Regions from separate parts of the Homo sapiens genome. Here region 2 is linked to region 1. The links come from fine-mapping of genetic effects on gene expression. A gene starts in region 1. The other region holds a variant in brackets. All regions are shown on one strand. Distances are from middle to middle. Region 1 holds the start of HPCAL4 (hippocalcin like 4). Region 2 holds the start of PABPC4 (poly(A) binding protein cytoplasmic 4).

The links.
Region 2: its variant is fine-mapped to the expression of HPCAL4 in whole blood (INTERVAL, PIP above 0.99).

Annotation. Positions count from the first base shown.
Region 1 is chr1:39,688,360-39,697,626 of GRCh38, reverse strand. It overlaps HPCAL4 (hippocalcin like 4), which reads left to right and starts at 6,194. Exons shown (of 4, transcript NM_016257.4): 1 at 6,194-6,321. RefSeq lists an enhancer at 5,225-5,815 and silencers at 5,888-6,117, 6,338-6,417, 7,692-7,918.
Region 2 is chr1:39,571,622-39,582,154 of GRCh38, reverse strand. It overlaps PABPC4 (poly(A) binding protein cytoplasmic 4), which reads left to right and starts at 5,365. Exons shown (of 16, transcript NM_001135653.2): 1 at 5,365-6,396; 2 at 9,569-9,762. The coding sequence starts at 6,204. It overlaps PABPC4-AS1 (PABPC4 antisense RNA 1), which reads right to left. Exons shown (of 4, transcript NR_125979.1): 3 at 9,477-9,700; 4 at 8,952-9,074. RefSeq lists a silencer at 5,111-5,420 and enhancers at 5,921-5,990, 6,491-6,540, 6,561-6,680. The variant C/T (reference allele first, on the strand shown) is at 5,554.

The DNA of each region.
Region 1 (9,267 bases):
AAGCTATCTCCTATAATAAACAGCTCTGCCCCCTCCCCTCACCCATTGAGGCCTGGGGGTGGTACTGGATCTCCACTGTTGCTAGCTGCACGGTGCTTGGCAATACCTCATTGATTTCTCTCAACCATACTGTACCGTACCTATGTACATAATTCCCTTATTGACCTTTCTTTAATTATCCCTTTGAGTGCCACTTGCTTGATAGTACAGCTTGTATGTGTTCTTATAAACTCTAGGCACCTCTATTGTTTTTCTCCACCAAGCATCTATTCACCCCTTTCTTGGAAGGAACACCTTCCTTCCCTAGTGTGGTGGCAGGGGCATATGCTTTGGGAGGACTTGACTTGACTTCCCAGTTCTGGGTGTAGGAAAATGACTCAAGCCTGGCCAATCTGAGTACTGCATACCCCTGTCTTCAGCGATTGACCCTGAAATTAGCATGGACTCCAAATCAGGCCAATGAGAGCCAGCCCAGGACTTTGGCTGCAGTGGGAAAGAGAAGCTCTCTTCTTTTCTGTGGGACTCCAACCTGACAGTATGTTGGCCTGGAGATGCCCACAGATATCTTGTCTTTATGTGGATCTCGAGAATTAAGCCAACACTCAAGAGAGCAGAGCTGAGCCTTGGAAAGAGGTCAGGTATTAATTACGTTGTTTAAGCCCTAGAATCCAGCCAGCCCTAAAGTCCAATCTATTTCTGTTTTTTTTTTCTTTACTTAAGCCATTACATTCTCTTTTTGCCTAACCCATCATAGGGTGGATTTTCTGTACCTTGCAACAAGTCATAACTGACAAAGAAATATATCAAATTAATATATGTTCCCTGAAAGCAAACATAAATCACCTCTAGATAACCTAAGTTTAAAACATAAATCTGGGGAAGAGATGTGGGATGGCTTACTGACTCAAAGGAAAAGCAGAAGACGGGATTCAGATAGCAGGAATGAATAGACAGGGTCATTAGGGCACTGCTCTGGAATAAAGCAGTGCTAACTATCTACATCCTTGAGTCACTTTACTCAAGATTCAGATTTGCTTGGGGGAGAGAGAGAGAGAGAGAGAAGGGGAGAGAGAGAGAGAGAAAGCAAGACACCTGAGCTGATAGTTTCCACCACAACTGTACATAATAGGGTGCTATTACTATACACTGTAATTCCTCAAAGTAAAATCTGTGCTAAGCACTTTGCATATATTAACTCATTTTAATCCTCAGAGTAGCCCTATAAAATAAACACTATTTTTGTTTGTTTGTTTGTTTTTGAGGTGGAGTCTCACTCTGTCACCCAGTCTGGAGTGCAGTGGTACCATCTCAGCTCACTGCAACCTCCAGCTCCCGGGTTCAAGTGGATTCTCCTGCCTCAGCTCCTCAAGTAGCTGGGATTACAGGTGTGCGCCACCAGTCCCGGCTAATTTATTTATTTTATTTTTTGTTTGTTTGTTTGTTTGTTTGTTTTTTGAGATGAAGTCTCGCTCTGTCGCCCAGGCTAGAGTGCAGTGGCGTGATCTCGGCTCACTGCAACCTCCGCCTCCCGGGTTCAAGCAATTCTCCTGCCTCAGCCTCCTGAGTAGCTGGAATTACAGGTGTGTGCCACCATGCCCGGCTAATGTTTTTGTATTTTAGTAGAGACAGGGTTTCACCATACTGGCCAGGCTGGTCTCAAACTTCTGACCTTAGGTGATCCACCCGCCTCAGCCTCCCAAAGTGCTGGGATTACAGGCGCGAGGCACTGCTCCCAGCCTGGCATGTTTTTAGTAGAGATAGGGTTTCACCATGTTGGCCAGGCTAGTCTCAAACTCCTGACCTCAGGTGATCCACCTGTCTTGGCTTCCCAAAGTGCTGGGATTACAGGCATGAGCCACCGCTCCCGGCCAATACTATTTTTATTATCCCTATTTTACAGATAAAGAGACAGAGACACAGAGAGATAAAGTAATGTGCCTGTAGTCACACAGCTGGTAAGTGACAACTGTGGGATGCAAACCTAGGCAACCTGGCTGTAAGTCTGTGCACTTAACCCATTATACATATGGCTTCTCCAATAGAATAAGAGGGAATAGATTCAGGACAGGCAAAACCACAAGGTCCCCTGCAGTTATCATGCAAGGAGTTATAGGGAACTTCCACTCTCTCTGTAGTTGTTGTCTTCTTTCTTCTTTCTTCTTTCTTCTTTCTTCCTTCTTTTCTTTCTCTTCTCTTCTCCTTCTTCTTTTCCTTCTCCTTCTTCCAAATAATAGAGAGACTTCTTAAAAAAAATCGTGCTTAGCCAATAGCATAAAAGGAAGGAATCCAACTCTGGTGATCTCACTCTCTCCCAGCCACAAAGAAGATGGTGAACTATCTAAGACCTAGGGGAATTCCAGCTGTCAGGAGGCTGCACTAGCCAAGGCAGAGAAAACCCAGGGAATCAGGAAGGCACTATCCATCATAAAGGCACTGTTCAGGACCAAGGAGGAGAGGAATGCTAGCACTTAGATGAAACAAATTGAAGTGGCCACTGTCTGCAGACCTCTGTCCTCACCCAAACCCTGCTGGGCTCACTCCCCTCCATGCCCCTTTGTGGGGCCTCCTGTACAGCCACCCTGTCCTTCAGTGCAGCTTGATTTTGCCTCCTCATTCTGCAGAGCCTGCTCCTTCAACAACGTGGAACAGGTGTTTGCCAAGACTCCAAGCCTGAGAACAGTAAGGCCATGACAAAGCCCCAAAACTTAAGCCACATTCCTCTGGCTCATAATAGTGGAAATCCCAACTCAATTCTGGATGCTACCCCTTCTCAGGAACACAAGTCAGCCAGTGGTTAAGAGTGTGGGCTCTGAAGTCAGACCTAGGTGGGAATCCCAGCTCTTTGACTAACGAGCTGTGTTACAATGGACAAGTTGTCTAACCTTTCTGAGGCTCCATCCTGTGCCATGAAATAAAGTAATGAAACAAGGGCTGAAATTCAGTCCCTATGCACTGTACAGCTAAACTGGTTATTAAAACATAAAAGTACTTCCAAATTGATTGGTAAACAGCCATAGCCTTTGACTCCTTACTATGCTTGCTTCTCCCTGCCTGCCTGACTGATCCAATAACCTAAGTGTTAACTCTTGGCAGAACAGAGAGCTACTAAGACCTTGATCTAGCACTAAGGCCAGTATCCATTCTGATTGATAACGCTCATGCCTGAATGGAGTGTTAGATATTTTTAATATCATCCCTAGTAGTGGTCATCTTCTGGATTAAGTAAGATGATGCAGATAAAGGACTTGGCAGATAGTCTGGTACACAGTGAGGCAATTCAGTCAATGTCAGCTGTTATTGCTTTAAACATCAAACTGAAGGGAACAGAGGCAGGGTCCAATATCAGGGCCTCAAAGTTGAGTATGATGAACAGGTGAAGCTGGGTTATGACTGGCAGTTCAGGAATAGTCACATGGCCCCAAGATGATTCATGGGTGAGGCTGCATGGGTAGTCATGCCTGGAGGATAGGATGGCCAGGAGAAGCCACACTCTGGCCCCCTTGCAGTTCAGGAGGGCTGCTGCTTTTTTTTTTTTTTTTTTTTTTTTTTGTGTGTGTGTGTGTATATCACTCTGTTGCCCAGGCTGGAGTGCAGTGGCGTGATCTCAGCTCACCGCAACCTCTGCTTCCTGGGTTCAAGCGATTCTCCTGCCTCAGCCTCCTTATTTTTGTATTTTTGTATTTTGTATTTTTAGTGGAGGCAGGGTTTTGCCATGTTGGCCAGGCTGGTCTCAAACTCCTGACCTCAAGTGATCCACCCGCCTCAGCCTCCCAAAGTGCTAGGATTACAGGCATAAATCCTGGGTGTGAGCCCAGGAGGGCTTCTTGTTTTCACTACTTCTAGTTTACTGTACTGCTGGAATCCCATATCTTGTTCACCTGAGACAGAAGGGCTGCCCAGGAGGCTGGATTTTGCCTTTCTAATACCTTGGGGAATCAGAAACAAATATTCCAATCTAAGGTCCTTACCCTTAAGGACTTGAAGGACCATAAGAAGAGGCAGTATTGTGTACTGATTAGGAGTGTGGGCTCTGAGGCTAGACTGCTGGGGTTCAAATCCCAGCACTGGAGCTCTCTTTACTAGCAATGTGAACTTGGGTCAGTCACTTAACCGCTCTGTGCCTTGATTTCCTCATCTGTTAAGTAGGAGTAATAATAGAACCTGCCTCACAGAGCTCTTATGGGGAATAAATTGAGTAACTTATTCCCAATTTATATTATATGGTAACATATAATATGCTAGAATAGCACCTGACACAAAGTAAGCTCTCGATACACATTAGCTATTGTTAAGGGGCTCAGGACTCTTAAGTGGAGCAGTCAGATTCATGTCCACATACTTCTGTCCAAGGGACAGTCTTTCTTCACCCACCTGGTTGAAAATTTCCCCCTGCTCCTCTGGACCTCTTGAGCCAGCTCCCACATTTCACAGACTGGGAGGCCCAGAATGAGAAGGGTTTTGCCCACGGTCGTAAATGGAATCATTGGCAAAAATGAGACTCAATGTTAGCAATATGAACTTGGGTCAGTCAATGTTAGGGTTTCAGATACCACTTCTAGTAACCTGTGCTGCCTCTCCCCACTTCTTCACGCCTTGGATTATGGTTAACTGTGAGCAAGGGGGGTTCTCGCTCATCTCTGGGTCCCCAAGACCCAGAGCTGAGAAGGTATCAGAGAAGTGAAAGAGTTAGAGCTTCAAACACCTGTCTTTCATGAGTCACCAACCCATAGTGCCAAGGACGCGCCTTCTCCTACAGCTGCAGGTTCCTTGGAGCCCTCAGCCCCCGCTAAGGCCGCAGAGAGAAGGCATAGTCCGCAGCCTCGAAAATGGTAGAGCAAAACCGTTTCAAGGGGCAACGGGACAGGTCCTAAAGAAAAGGGACGTCCACGGGTTCCTCCCCCAGCGAGCCTGGCCCAGGCATTTCTGGGACCAGCTCCAGAAGCCTCGCCCCCACTCGCGGCAGGTCTGACCCCATCCTCCATCGCCCCGCCCAGCCCACCTCTACCTTCGCCGCGCGGACAGAAGCCCCGCCTCTCACCGCTGCTCTTCAGCGTCCGCGCTCCGATTAGGCCAATCCCCAGCCGTCCGCCCCGACTTTCGACAGATCCTTAGAAGTCCCTGCCCCGCACGTGGCCCAGCCCGGGGATGTCTGGCTCCCCTTTTGCCCCCAGTTTGGCTTAAAAGGGTTCCTTCCCACAGCCTTGTGTCAGGAGCTCTCAGACGCCAGTGCAGCCCAGGCGGCCGGCCCGGGCTGTGGGGAGACCCCCAAGTGCGGGGAGGAGGTGTTGCCGGGGCCCTGAAAGCTTCCAGACCCGCTCAGTGTAAACCGCCTCGGGTTTGTGTCAACATCCGAGGCCGGAGACTGGCGGCGGCTGGGGACCGGCTCCGTCTGCGGGACGGGAAAACGGGAGGGTGGGGAATGGAGGATCCATGGCTAGGCATAGGGGTCCTTCGGGGGAGAACGCGAGAGGCCTCTTGGGGGTCCATGAGAAAGGAGGAGGGCCCGTCTGGGGAGGGACCGGAATGAAGGGCCAGAGGGGTGGCTGGAGGGAACCCACGACTAGCGCGGGGCTAGGTAGAGGCTGGGACTTCGCCACCCATACCGCGCTCTCCGCGCGCAACCAGCACCCTCCTCTCTGCCCCACGGCGTGAGGGGAGTGGATGCGTGGGGAGGGGGGACGCAGAGATGTGGACTGCTGACCAGCCACCTCCTCCCTCTCCCACCCAGCTCCTCCCCAGCTCCTCTTTGGCCCCTCCCAATTTCGGGTGGGATATGGGTGTGGGGGGGGGTCTCATCTTGTGACTCATCCCCTCTTCCGCCCCCACCCATGCTGGGGCCCAGGAAAGGAAGCTTAGAGATTCGGCTGTGGTTCTCCCGTTTCCATAGCAACGGTGAGGTTGTTTTTGAGAATCCACTTTCATCGTCGACCCTTTCCACCCCAGACTTGTAAGCCGGGGGCTGAGCCTCAGGGCAGGGGTGCAGATGGGGGTGCAGCCCTCCCGCTTCCCGGCGACTCCGGGAAGGTCAGCGCGGGCAGGCGGGGCGCGCTCCTGCGGCCGGGCCTCGCCGGCCACCCGGTCCCCACCTGAAACCCCGCCTGCCACTCCGCTCCAGAGGAGCCAATAGCCGTGCAACCTGCCCGGGATGGGGCGGGGCTTATGCAAATAGTGTCGCCTTCGGGAGGCACATAGTGATACAAGAGCTGGAAGGCGGCTCCGGCGCAGACCTTGGAGAGCACAGCTGCCGGCCCGCGAGCCAGCCTCGGTTCCCGCGGCCCGCCGAGGCTCGGAGCCATCCAGCGACCCGGCGACCGGCCTCAGGTAATGCGAGTGGGACCGGGTCCTCAAGGCAACAAACCCACCGGGCGGAGGCCCTGGCCCCCTCCCCCTCCACTCTCCCTTCCCATCCTCATGTCCTGCCCTGATTCACCTCCCTGACCCGTGGTTCCGCCTTAGGCGGCAGCAACTGAAGAGCCCACCCCTGGGCAGGAGACCCCCCACCTCAGTCCAGGCCCATGGGTGCAGAGAAGGAGGCAGAGCCGCCTACTTATCCCCAGCTCAGGTGAGAACAACCATTGCTATGGCCCCCAACATACACGCGCGCAAACACACATACACACACAGATGCACACACACACATCTGGGGGTGTGGTGGCGCTGGTGCTAGCTGGAGGCGCTGGTCACCCTCCCTCCTGTTTGGATATGGGTTGTCTGCCCAGCACCATGGCAAACTCCCACCTCCACGGATAGCCCCTAGCCACTTCTCATCAGGGAGCCCCTGCCCCCAAAGACAGCCTCCCCCTCCACAGAGCGCTCCCTCCTTGTTGTCCCCAGACACTGTCCCCACATCCCACCCCTCAAGCTGACAGAGCCCACAGCATACCTGAGGGGGGGACAATCCCCCTTCCCCAGTTTTTCTCCTCACAGTCTCGACAGCCCTCCCCAGTGGCCCCCAGTGCTAGGCAGAGGCCCCATATTTGGCATCTCTCATCCTGGCGGGAGGATGAACCAAAGACACCACCCCCAGCAGACCACCCATACCGTCAGTCCAGTTGCTGCCAAGGCCCCAACCTCCATACCTCCTCCCTCCCCCCTCACAGCCAGGCACCAAATCCTCTCATTCTGCCTGTCAAATGTCTTTCTAATTTGTATGACTATTTGCTCCCTCTCTCCCACCTTCCTGCTGCTCCGTGGGGACCTTGCCAAGGTGCCATGTGGGCTGTATTGCTCTTGGCCCTAAAGTGAACTATACCTGGAGGGCAGATGAGCTGGGTTCAAATCTTGTACAGCCAAAGTTTGACTTTGGCCAAGTCACTCCCCTCTCTGATCCTTCATGAAAATGGGGAGAGGTATAACAGAGAGGGTAGACTGGGTGAGATGAACTTGAACAGCCTTCTGGCACTGAGACACTCTGGTTCTATGGCTGATTATGGAAAAACAGGATCCTGAACCAAGAGGACATTAAAGAGAGGAGACCTGAGGGGGGCGGGGTTGGTTTAGAACTCACTGAAGACACATTCCTTCTTAACCAGCCTAGGTACAGGCTACCTCCTCCCACACATTCTCCAGGCCCCTTCTATTAGGAGTCCCTCCTAGACCACCAGCCCATCCTGACATGGACAGCTCCAAATTGTAGGTGGCCAGCTGGGATTACTCTTTGTTTGTCATCCCCTGCCTCTCATTAAGAAGAAGAGGGAAAAGACCTGGTTGCTGCTGCTATTGCTGCTGCTTGGGGAAGAGCAAAGGGAGGAGAGGAAAGAGAGAAAAAATCTCCTGACCAGGGAGCTATTGTCACCATGGCAACCACCTCAGTACCAGCTCCTCTGAAGCTGGGTGAGGGTGTGGGATTATTGCCTCCTTCAGTCCCTCCCATTCAAAGCCTCAGCCACCTCTCCATTCAAAGCCCACAGCCCTTAGCCCTCTTGAAGAAACCTCTGGGCACACTGGGACAATGGTTTTGTGTATGGGACAGTCCCAGCTCCTTCATAGCTGGAGGACAGCCCTCAAGAGGTAAGCAGAGGAGCCTGCCCATGTTCAGCAGGGCCACAGCTCCAGCAGAGCATGTCCCCAGCTGGGTTCTGGCCTTCACTTTGCTGCTGATGGGCTATAGTTGACCTGGGGTGAACCCTTCCTTCCCCTAGGTCTGGGTTCCATTGTCTCTGAAGTGGGTGTGATAGCAGGAGAACACAGATAAACAAAACAGCCTGACATAGATCCAGGGAGGAAGAAGGGGGTTCTGCTCCTCTTACGTAATCCACCAAGAGACATTCATTGAACATCACTGTGTCCTAGGCATTGCCACTGCGTCTCCACAGAGCAGTTCTGTGCAGGCACAGAAGGCAGGGTGGGAACCAGGGTAGGGGAGCTATAAGAGAGAAAAAACCCCTGCTCTCATGGGTCCCAGACTCAGTGAGGACTAAGCACTCACTGGGAGAAGTGAGTGCATAGGGAAAAGCACTTTTATTTTCCCCATGGGAAAAATAAACTTTTCTCACGCTTCAACCTGCTCAAAAGTGGACTGGGGCATATTGGAGGGGATCAACTCCTTGCCATTGAGCAAAAAGGTCTGGAGGATTTTTTTTCTGACTCAGGCAGGGGTTTAATGCAAAGACCTGTCTCAAATCAGACTGCATCCTGGAATTCTACAGCACCAGGTGAGGGTCAGAGGGCTATGAAGTCTACACGCCTGTGGGGGACTGACTCATGCCCAAAGTGCTGAGCTTGGGCTGCTGACTCTCCACTGTCCAGACTGGAAAAGGCTGATCATAAGGAAGCAGGCTTCAACCAGGCCCTGAAGACTGATTATAGTCCAGGAGAGAAGAAAGGATATTAGGGGAGAGGAAAATAGCTTAGCAAAGAGGTGAGGCGTGTCTGGCTGTGAGAAGGCTGGCTTGAGAGGAGTATGCGGTGGTGAGTGAGCAATGAGAGCTGAGGCGAGATAGGTGGGCACTTTGAGACCAGATTCTAGAGGATTCTAGAGTTTCAGGGGGCCCATGGGCATGGCTACTTCTAGTCTATATTGTAACTTTCGGGGGGAAAAAGCCATTCCCTCCTAACAGAGGAATCAAAAGAAAGGCACTTCCTGCCAGGCAGGGAAGCCCCATGGGCATGAGCATAGCTTGATTTCAGCCCCCTCGGCTGTGTCCCTGGCTATGGACATAATGAAGGTACCAAGAGCATTTCAAAATAAGAGACAACAGGACTTGATGGCAAGTTAGACCTAGGGCAAAGGGAAGGGAAAAAATGAAGGTAACTAAGATTGTGTTC
Region 2 (10,533 bases), 120 kb after region 1:
CAGAATGGCGTGAACCCGGGAGGCGGAGTTTGCAGTGAGTGGAGATCCCACTACTGCATTCCAGCCCGGGCGACAGAGTGAGACTCCCTCTCAAAACAAAAAAAAAAAAAAGAAAGAAAAAAGTAATTTGAGCGAAGGCACTTTGCTCTTAAAATCCTGCAGCTTTACTCTTTGATCTGAGGATAAAATCCTAAGTGTTTTAAGGCCATCTCTTTCATTTCCCACAACTCCACAGTTTGTCTCCCTTAGGGCTTTTTTTTTTTTTTCAGACAGAGTCTCTCTCAGTCGCCCAGGCTGGAGTGCAGTGGCACAACCTTGGCTCACTGCAACCTCTGCCTCCCGGATTCACATGATTCTCCTCCCTCAGCCTCCCAAGTAGCTGGGATTATAGGCACCTGCCACCACATCCGGCTAATTTTCTATTTTTAGTAGAGACGGGGTTTTACCATGTTGGTCAGGCTGGTCTCAAACTCCTGACCTCAGGTGATCTGCTCTCCTTGGCCTCCCAAAGTGCTGGAATTACAGGCAATTACAGGCGGCAGCCACCACGCCTGGCACTTAGGGCCTTTATAGATGCTGTTCTCCCTGACTTCATTTAGGGACTCCCCTCCTTTCTTTTTATTTTACTTTTTTTTTTTTTTTTTGAGACAGAGTTTCACTCCTGTTGCCCAGGCTGGAGTGCAATGGCGCAATCTCGGCTCACCGCAACCTCCACCTCCCCGGTTCAAGTGATTCTCCAGCCTCAGCCTCTGGAGTAGCTAGGATTACAGGCATGCACCACCACGCCTGGCTAATTTTGTTTTTTTAGTAGAGATGGGGTTTCTCCATGTCCGTCAGTCTGGTATCGAACTCCTGACCTCAGGTGATCTGCCTGCCTCAGCCTCCCAAAGTGCTGGGATTACAGGCGTGAGCCACCGCGCCCGGCCTCCGCCTCCTTTCTTAGTACAAATGTAGCTTGATAGTAATAGCTATTAACATTCATCCAAGGCTGGGCACATGGTGGCTTACACCTGTAATCCCAACACTTTGGGAGACTGAGGTGGGGGCGGATTGCCTGAGCTCAGGAGTTCGCAACCAGGCTGGGCAACATTGTGAAAACCTGTCTCTACTAAAATACAAAAAATTAGCCCAGTGTGGCGATGTATGCCTGTAGTCCCAGCTACTAGGGAGGCTGAGGCAGGAGAATCGCTTGAACCTGAGAGGCAGAGGTTGCAGTGAGCTGAGATCGCACCACTGCATTCCAGCCTGGGCGACAAAGTGAGACATCTCAAAAAAAAAATTAATCCAAACAATTTATGTGTATTTATATGTATTCATTTATTCTCACAATAACCCTTTTAATTGTTAATAAGGTTTATTAGTATAGTTCAGATGAGAAATTTGAGGGTCAGAGATGTGAACTAGCTTGCCCAAAGTAATATAGGTAATAAGCTCCCCCAATAGACAATAAGCTTCAGGAGGTCAGAGCTTGTGTGGGTTTTGCTCATCTGTGCCTAGTATTCATTTGTTTATTTAACAAATATTTAGGCCAGGTGCAGTGGTTTATGCCTGTAATCCCAACACTTTAAGAAGCCAAAGTGGATCGCTTGAGGTCAGGAGTTTGAGGCTGCAGTGAGCTATGATCAGGCCACTGCACTCCAGCCTGGGCAACACAGTGAGACTTTGTTGCTTAAAAAAAAATACATGCAGTGGCTCATGCCTGTAATCCCAGCACTTTGGGAGGCCAAGGTGGGCGGATCACGAGGTCAGGAGATCAAGACCATCCTGGCTAGCACAGTGAAACCCCATCTTTACTAAAAAATACAAAAAATTAGCCGGGCGTGGTAGTGGGCACCTGTGGTCCCAGCTACTCGGGAGGCTGAGGCAGGAGAATGGCGTGAACCCGGGAGGCAGAGCTTGCAGTGAGCCAAGATCGCGCCACTGCACTCCAGCCTGGGCAACAGAGCGAGACCCAGTCTCAAAAAAAACAAAAAAACAAAAAAAAAAATACACAGGCTGGGTGTGTGGCTCACGCCTGTAATCCCAGCACTTGGGGAAGCCGAGACGAATACATCACCTGAGGTCAGCAGTCGGAGACCAGCCTGGGCAACATGGTGAAATCCCATCTCTACTGAAAATACAAAAAGTAGCTGGGCATAGTGGTGGGTGCCTGTAATTCCAGCTACTTGGGAGGCTGAGGCAGGAGAATCACTTGAATCCGGGAGGTGGCGGTTGCAGTGAGCCGACATCACGCCACTGCACTCCAGCCTGGGTGACAGAGCAAGTCTCTGTCTCAAAAAAAAAAAAAAAAAAAAAAAGGCTGGGCGTGGTGGCTCACCCCTGTAATCCCAGCACTTTGGGAGGCCGAGGCGGGCAGATTACAAGGTCAAGAGATTGAGACCATCCTGGCCAACATGGTGAAACCCCATCTCTACTAAAAATACAAAAATTAGCCAGGTGTGGTGGCACGCACCTGTAGTCCCAGCTACTCGGGAGGCTGAGGCAGGAGAATTGCTTGAATCCGGGAGGCGGAAGTTGCAGTGAGCCTAGATCGCAGTACTGCACTCCAGCCTGCCAATAGAGCGAGAGTTGGTTTCAAAAAAAAAAATAGCCAGGTGTGGTGGCGCATGCCTGCAATCCCAGCTACTTGGGAGGCTGAGGCATGAGAATTGCTTGAACCTGGGAGGCAGAGGTTGCAGTGAGCCGAGACTGCACCACTGCACTCCAGCCTCGGTGACAGAGGAAGATTTCATACCCCCCCCACAAAAAAAACAAGAAAACACACACACACACACACACACACACACACACACACACAAACATATATTGAATATTTATTTATCTATTTATTTTTTAGTAACAGAGTCTCACTCTGTTGCTCAGCCTGGAGTGCAGCGACATGATCATAGCTCACTACAGCCTTCAACTCCTGGCCTCAAGCGATCCTCCTACCTCAGACTCCCAAGTAGCTGAGACCACAGGCATGTGTCCCCACACCCAGCCAATTAAAAGAAAATTTTTTTTTGTAGAGATAGGGTCTCACTCTGTTGCCCAGGCTGGTTTCAAATGTCTGGGCTCAAGCGATCCTCCTGCCTCAGCCTCCCAAAGCACTGAGAGTATAGGTGTGAGCCACCTGCCTGGCCAGTTACTGAACATTTAGTACGTGCTATGTTAAGCACTATTCTAGATTCCTGTTCTCATGAAGCTTATATACCAATGTGGAAAAGATAGATACTAAACAGGTAAACAGATATAGAACAACATAATTTTGGGTAGGAATAACAGGCTTGAAGACAAGAAGACAAGTTGGTGTGATAGTGATTAACAATGTTGACGGCTACTTTAGACCACAGGAGGTCTAGGAAGACTTTCCTGAGGAGGGAATCTATAGAAGGAGCACTCCCATAAATGTTCCTTTTTTTTTGAGACGGAGTCTCGCTCTGTCACCCAGGCTGGAGTGCAGTAGCATGATCTCAGCTTACTGCAACCGCTGCCTCCTGGGTTCCAGCGATTCTCCTGCCTCAGCCTTCCAAGTAGCTGGGACTATAGGCACGTGCCATCATGCCCGGCTAATTTTGTATTTTTAGTAGAGATGGGGTTTCACCATGTTGGCCAGGCTGGTCTCGAACTCCTGACCTCAGGTGATCCGCTCACCTCAGCCTGCCAAAGTGCTGGGATTACAGGTGTGAGCCATCGTGCCCAGCCAATGTTTCTTGATTTAATATAGTTATTAGAATATAAACTCCATGAGAGAGGGAGTGACTTCTGGTCCACCATGGTATCTCCAGCCCCTGTATTGACATTGGCATAGAGTAGGCTCAGATTAACCATTTATTTGAATTAATTAATATATAAATACACATATTTCTTTAGTCATTTACTTAAATCAGTGCTTTTGAAGGGGGATGTCTGTGTCTTTTGGCAATTTCTGTTTTTGGTTTTCACAGTGATGGCAAAGGTGGTTCCTGGCACTTATGGAAGAAGGGATGCTATATATCTTGTAATGCGTGTGGACAGTCCCATATAACATAGTCCTATAAAGTGATATGACTTTTTTTTTTTTGAGACGGAGTTTCGCTCTTGTTGCCCAGGCTAGAGTGCAATGGCATGATCTCAGCTCACCACAACCTCTGCCTGCCGGGTTCAAGCGATTCTTCTGCTTTAGCCGCCTGAGTAGCTGGGATTACAGGCATGCACCCCCATGTCTGGCTACTTTTTGTATTTTTAGGAGAGACGGGGGTTTCTTCATGTTGGTCATGCTGGTCTCGAACTCTCGACCTCAGTGATCCGCCCGCCTCGGCCTCCCAAAGTGCTGGGATTACAGGCGTGAGCCACCACGCCTGGCCTGTGATACGACTTTCAAATGACCTGCCAGACTCTCATGCAGATGAAAAGTCTTTTTATAATTATCCAAGCCTAGAAGAAACTTTAAACATAGGAACAGAAAGTATTTCTGTGCCCTTAAACACAAACTAAATGTCCGGGAATGCCACCAGCATGTCAATAGAGGGGATGCTTGTGTTTGGTTTCATTGAAGCTTTACCAAAATGTGCTCATCTTTTCAGAAAATCCCATCACCCATGGATACTGCTTGCATTTCTAGTTCCTGACGATTCTACCTCTAGGTCAACGGTATCCTGAAAACTTCTCAAATCTTTATTGTATTTGGACCCAGACATTTACCTATTGGACCACCTATTATTTTATTTTAACTTATTTTATGTCACCTTCATTTCACAATTTGGCATACCATTTAATTTTTTTTTTTTTGAGAGGGAGTCTCACTCTGTTGCCCAGGCTGGATGGAGTGCAGTGGCACGATCTTGGCTCACCGCGACCTCCGCCTCCCGGGTTCAAGCTATTCTCCTGCTCAGCCTCCCGAGTAGCTAGGACTACAGGCGCATGCCACCACGCCCGGCTAATGTTTTGTATTTTTAGTAGAGACGGGGTTTCACCGCGTTAGCCAGGATGGTCTCGATCTCCTGACCTCCATGATCCATCCGCCTCGGCCTCCCAAAGTGCTGGGATTACAGGCGTGAGCCACTGCACCCAGCCCCATACCATTTAATTTTAAACCTCATGCGTGTGTGCAGGTTAAATGGCTCCTAGGTTCCATTCCCGGGTGATGGGTGGGAGGGTGTTAAGATTTATTTGTTATAGAAAGGGGCCCTGGGGTCTCCCGCAGCCGCGAGCTGGGCGGTCCTCCCGGCGCCAGGGGTCGCTGTAGCGCCGCGCGGCCGCGCCGGGTCGCTCTCGCGTGGCCGCCCCGCCTCGGGCCCCCGGGCCGAGTGGGCGGGCACGACTGCGCCCAGGTCGCGAGGCGCCCTTCGACCAGCAGCGCCCGGGGCGGGCGGGTATAAATGGAGCGGTGGCTCCCTCGGCCGCCTCTCTCCGCCCCGGGTCGCTGCCGCCTCCGCCGCTTTCGGGCTTCGCAGCCTGAGGAAAAAAAGAGAAAAAGATAAAAAAAATCTGAAAACGCTTCAAAATCCTGAAAAAAAAAAAGGAAAAGAAAAAACGAATCCTCGGAGAACCCGCGGGGAAGTCACTTTCGTACGCTTCCGGCCTGCCCCGCGC[C/T]CGCCGCCGCAGCGCTTGGCGTCCGTCGGTCTCCGTCCGTCGGTCCGGGGGTGAGCCGCCCGCCCGGCCCGCCGTGCCCTCCCCCCGCTCGGGCCCCGAGCCCCGCGCCCCGCGCCTGCCCCGGCGCACCACGTGTCCGTGCTGCCCTTCGCCGCCCGCCCGGGGCTCGCCGAGTCGGCGCCCACAAAGATTTGGTTTCCCTCTGCCCCGGCGGTTGTAATCTTAAACCGCCGGAGCCCGAGGCCTATATTTATAGAGAAACGCGTGTCCCCGAGGCCGCCGTGGGCAGCGTCCGGTCGCCTCTTAAAGGATTTTTACCCTTCGGAAGGGGATTCCCCGTTTAATTTTTTTCCTACTTTGATTTTTTGAAATTTGGAGCTTCGCACCAGGACCGCGGAGAAGTGCAAAGTCGCGGGGAGGGCCGTATTGTGCGGAGAGCCTTTTGTCTGCGGTGCTGCGGCCGTGGGAGCCGGCCCCCGCCTCCCGTTTCCGTCCCGTCTCCAAGCCCGCCGACTCCAGCTCGTCCTCGCCGCGCCGGTGCCACCTGTGAGCCGCGGCGCGGGCCCGGGCTCCGAAGGCGCCCCTTTGTCCTGCGGCGGGCCCGATAAGAAGTCCTCCTGGCGGGGCTCGGGGTGGTGGGGGGCGGGGAGATGAACGCTGCGGCCAGCAGCTACCCCATGGCCTCCCTGTACGTGGGCGACCTGCATTCGGACGTCACCGAGGCCATGCTGTACGAAAAGTTCAGCCCCGCGGGGCCTGTGCTGTCCATCCGGGTCTGCCGCGATATGATCACCCGCCGCTCCCTGGGCTATGCCTACGTCAACTTCCAGCAGCCGGCCGACGGTGAGTAGAAGCTGTGCCCACACGTGCGTGGGAGCCCGGAGGACCCCGGGAGTCGTCTTCTGGCAGGGCCCTCCTGCCGAGGAGGGCGGCATCACGACAGCATGTTGCCACCGAAGCTGGGAGCAGGGTGCGGAGATTGAGAACGCGGACCTGGCATCAGATGACTCGAGTTTCAATCTTGTTTCTACCACTTGCTAACTGGGTGACCTTGGGCTACTTATTAGTGTTGCTGGTAGTGGGGTTGGAAACCAAGGAGACTGTAAAACAGGATTAGAGTGAAGCCACTGGCATTCCACTGCGTGTGGTCCTTGTCAGTGGGGCTGGGCTGTTAGAGATCCTTGCTTGTGCCCCTCACAGGCTGGCCAAAAAGGCGGGACGTTTGAAACACAATTCCCCGCGAAAGTTTTACATTGTAAAGCTCCTGCCCGCTCCGCCACCTTTACTAACCTTGACTACCTGATGTTGTGCTGATAAAGGATCAGTCAGGGCAGGCAGGAAGCAGGGGGAAGGTTTCTGTGCGTTAAACTTTCGCAGAGACTTAGGTTAGTGCCACAAAAGCTGCGTGTGCCAGGCCACCTCCTTGGTCTGTGTGTTTGCCACTGGAGTGGAGAAGTGCTTTACTCTGGACAAATGGTATCCAGGCTCTGTGCTGTAGAGTGTCGTGGAGGTAGTTTAGGGAAGCGTCACTTGAAAATCTGGTGTCATTTGTCACCTCAGCTGTAACAGTGCTTTGCACTAGTCAGAGCCCTTTTATTTCATCTAATCTGAAGAAAATGGGACTCCTGAGAAGGAGAACGAATGCAAAAAGTTGGAAGCCAAGTTAGGACTCCCAGCACAGTGCTCTGCCACCTCAGATTGTGGCCTTAGCGTGGAGCATGGAGAGAGGTATGCTGCAGGCGTGGCAGGAGGGAGGCCAGAGGAAACCTGATCAGAGGCTGCACGTGACTCCAGATTAAAAGGGAACAACTGCAGAGATCATTACTGGGAGAAACAAGCCATTCTATGGCAAAGCATCTCCAGGTCCCTAGTTTTGGGGTCCCCCCTTTGTTTTCTGTCTGAGGCCCAGAGTTACTACCTGCCCAGGTTGCGGCTGAGACCAGAGAATTGGACATGTTGAGAGGGACTAGGTATTGCTACTGTCAATCCAGTGTGCTCCAAGCTGAGTTCTGTCCATGGCCATAGGAGCGCAAAGGTAGCTGAGTGTGGTCTTTTTAAGGGATAATGTACCACATTAGCTGTTGTCTGCCTTACTGACTTTTGAACAAAAGTCGTGTCACTTAGAGATAGCAGAAGCTATTGGTCAGTGTGTCTGCCAACACATACTTCTGCAGGACTTCTCCCTGCTATAAATAAGTGCAGCCAGATTTGTCAGACTAAGCCGGCTTGCCTTGTGCAGTGCTGTCTGGAAATAGACGAGGAGCTGTTGTTGAAGTGGGCTCCTTTACTGCTAATTAATGAAATAGTTTGCGATCCCAGCTATCTATCTCTGATAGCCATCACAAGCAAAGTCCTCTTTCCCTGGACTGTTCCTGACTTGGATCGGTCTTGTCATCTCCCCTTTTCCCAACTACCCCCCACACAGATGAGGCCCACCTTCTGAAGGGGGTGGGGAAAGTTGTTGGAAATAATGAGTGAAAATAAATTCTCCCGGCTAATGAAACAGTTGAGCTTGTGGAGCGGCAGAGTTGGGGAATTTTGTCCCCCCTTTAAGTGAGATGTTGTCCTGAGGCAAGGAGCAGGTTCCACTGCTCTGACCCTGTCTAAATCCCCTCATGGAGGAGGTTCTGGGTGATGTCACCGTTAGGAGATGCCATCATAGCCTTAAGGAAAAGTGGCCACCAGATCTGGGCATCCTTGTTGCGATTAGTGATGAGAAGTGTTTTGGCTGGCAGGTGGTGTTATTTTTTAGCTTTTGGTTCTTTTTGTTGTTGTTTGTTTTGAGACACTGTTTCACTCTTGCTGCCCAGGCTGGAGTGCAATGGCGCGATCTCAGCTCACTGCAACCTCTGACTCCTGGGTCCAAACAATTTTCCTGCCTCAGTCTCCTGAGTAGCTGGGATTACAGGCACCCGCCACCATGCCCAGCTAATTGTGTATTTTTAGTAGAGATGGGGTTTTCACCATGTTGGTCAGGCTGGTCTCGAACTCCTGACCTCAGGTAATCCACCCGCCTTGGCCTCCCAAAGTGCTGGGATTACAGGAGTGAGCCACCATACCCAGCCCAGCCTTTGGTTCTTTAAATTGTCTCTGGTGTACACACGGACTTGGTTGGGAAGCTAAGGAAGCATTCCAAGGTGTTGGATGGGGAAGTTGGTTGAGCACCCAGGGTAGCTGAAGTCCTAGAATTCTACAGAACTTCCATTAAGGCTTCAAAAGGTGGGTGCAGGGCCTGCCATCTGCGCACTGTCTACTTAGGCAGAAGGTATGGTGGTTTTATCCTTGTGATAGTACAGAGAACTTTTCCATGTGTGATCAGTTGTGTCCATTTTGATGACTGATGCTTTTTTGTTTAAGTCAATTTCTGTTCTCAGAAATTGAAAATAAACTGGACTGAATTCTGAATTCAGGGATAGCACCTTTTTTTTTTTTTCCAGATCATTTGCTTTACAGGTTTTGTCACTTGTCTCCATAGGTGGATTGCAGACTAAATGACTTGATAACTTTGATGCAATACCTCACTGAAAAATAAATCAGATAATCTAGTATTAGTTTCGTAATTACTAGCTAGCTGCACAGCTTAGTTACCCTAAACATAAGTTTGTTCATTTTGTAAAATGTATAATTTCAGCTGTCCCACCTGAGTCATGGTGGGTGGTAGTCTGCAAAGTCTCTTCTAAGTGGTAAAGCTTAGTCAAATGTGAGGTATTATCACTGGATCTTGGTGTCATTAAGGCCATTTAGATTATCTTTACTTGTGGCCCCTTTATCCAACAAGGGCACAGACCCAGAAGGGTGTTTAGACTTCTGTCATGAAGTAGAGTCATTAGCTGGAACTTATGCTTCCCTTACTAACAGTGCAGGCTGGAGGAATCTGATGCCCTTTTATTTTAATAGAGTTGCCTTTTATCAAGAGTGATTACCTTGAAAAGTCCTGGAGTAATCTGTTCTTAGGCTGTTGGCCTGTGGGAGCTGACGTTTTCTCTCCTTATTGAAATGTGTTTCTCTCTTACAGCTGAGCGGGCTTTGGACACCATGAACTTTGATGTGATTAAGGGAAAGCCAATCCGCATCATGTGGTCTCAGAGGGATCCCTCTTTGAGAAAATCTGGTGTGGGAAACGTCTTCATCAAGAACCTGGACAAATCTATAGATAACAAGGCACTTTATGATACTTTTTCTGCTTTTGGAAACATACTGTCCTGCAAGGTAAACATTGATTAAATGATTTTAGCAGAATAATTAATTGATTCTTGAAAACAAGATAAATACCAAACAGAGAACTATCTTGGAATTGGGGAACAAGATATGGGAATTTTCAAAATGCTGGACATGGAATCCTAAAAGTTCCCATAGGTAATCTCAGGGCCATACCCAGCGTAACCAGCACACGCTTTCATACCCTTGTTCTTTACTCAGCCTGAAATATCCTTCCTATTCTTTAGCTTTGGAAAGCCCACGTTTTTCTTTTGGGATGGGGGAAAGTAGAGGACCAGAGAAGTGTCTCTAGTCTTGAGGAAACTTAATCACTTTAGAAGCATAAATTCACTCTATTCCTTCTACGTATCTGTTCTATGCTGAGCACTTTAAAACTTAAACGGTGGTGGTGTATATGTTTAATGCCATACTACACTGAAAATCTGTTGTGGCCTTGGAAAATGTTTTGTTTTCTGCATCACCGTGGTTTGCACCCAGATCTCTTAAAATGTGTTGTTGTGTTTTAAAGAGACAGAGTCTTGCTCTGTCTGTCACCCAGGGTGGAGTGCAGTGGTCTAGTAATAGCTCATTGTAGCTTCGACCTCCTGGGCTCAAGCCATCCTCCCACCTCAGCCTCCCAAGTAGCTGGAACTACAGGCACGTGCCACCACACTCATTTAATTTTTTTCTTTTTTGTAGAGACAGGGTCTCCATTGTCCAACGATCTGGCTCCAACGATCCTCCTGCTTTGGCCTCCCAAAGCATTGGGATTACAGGCATGAG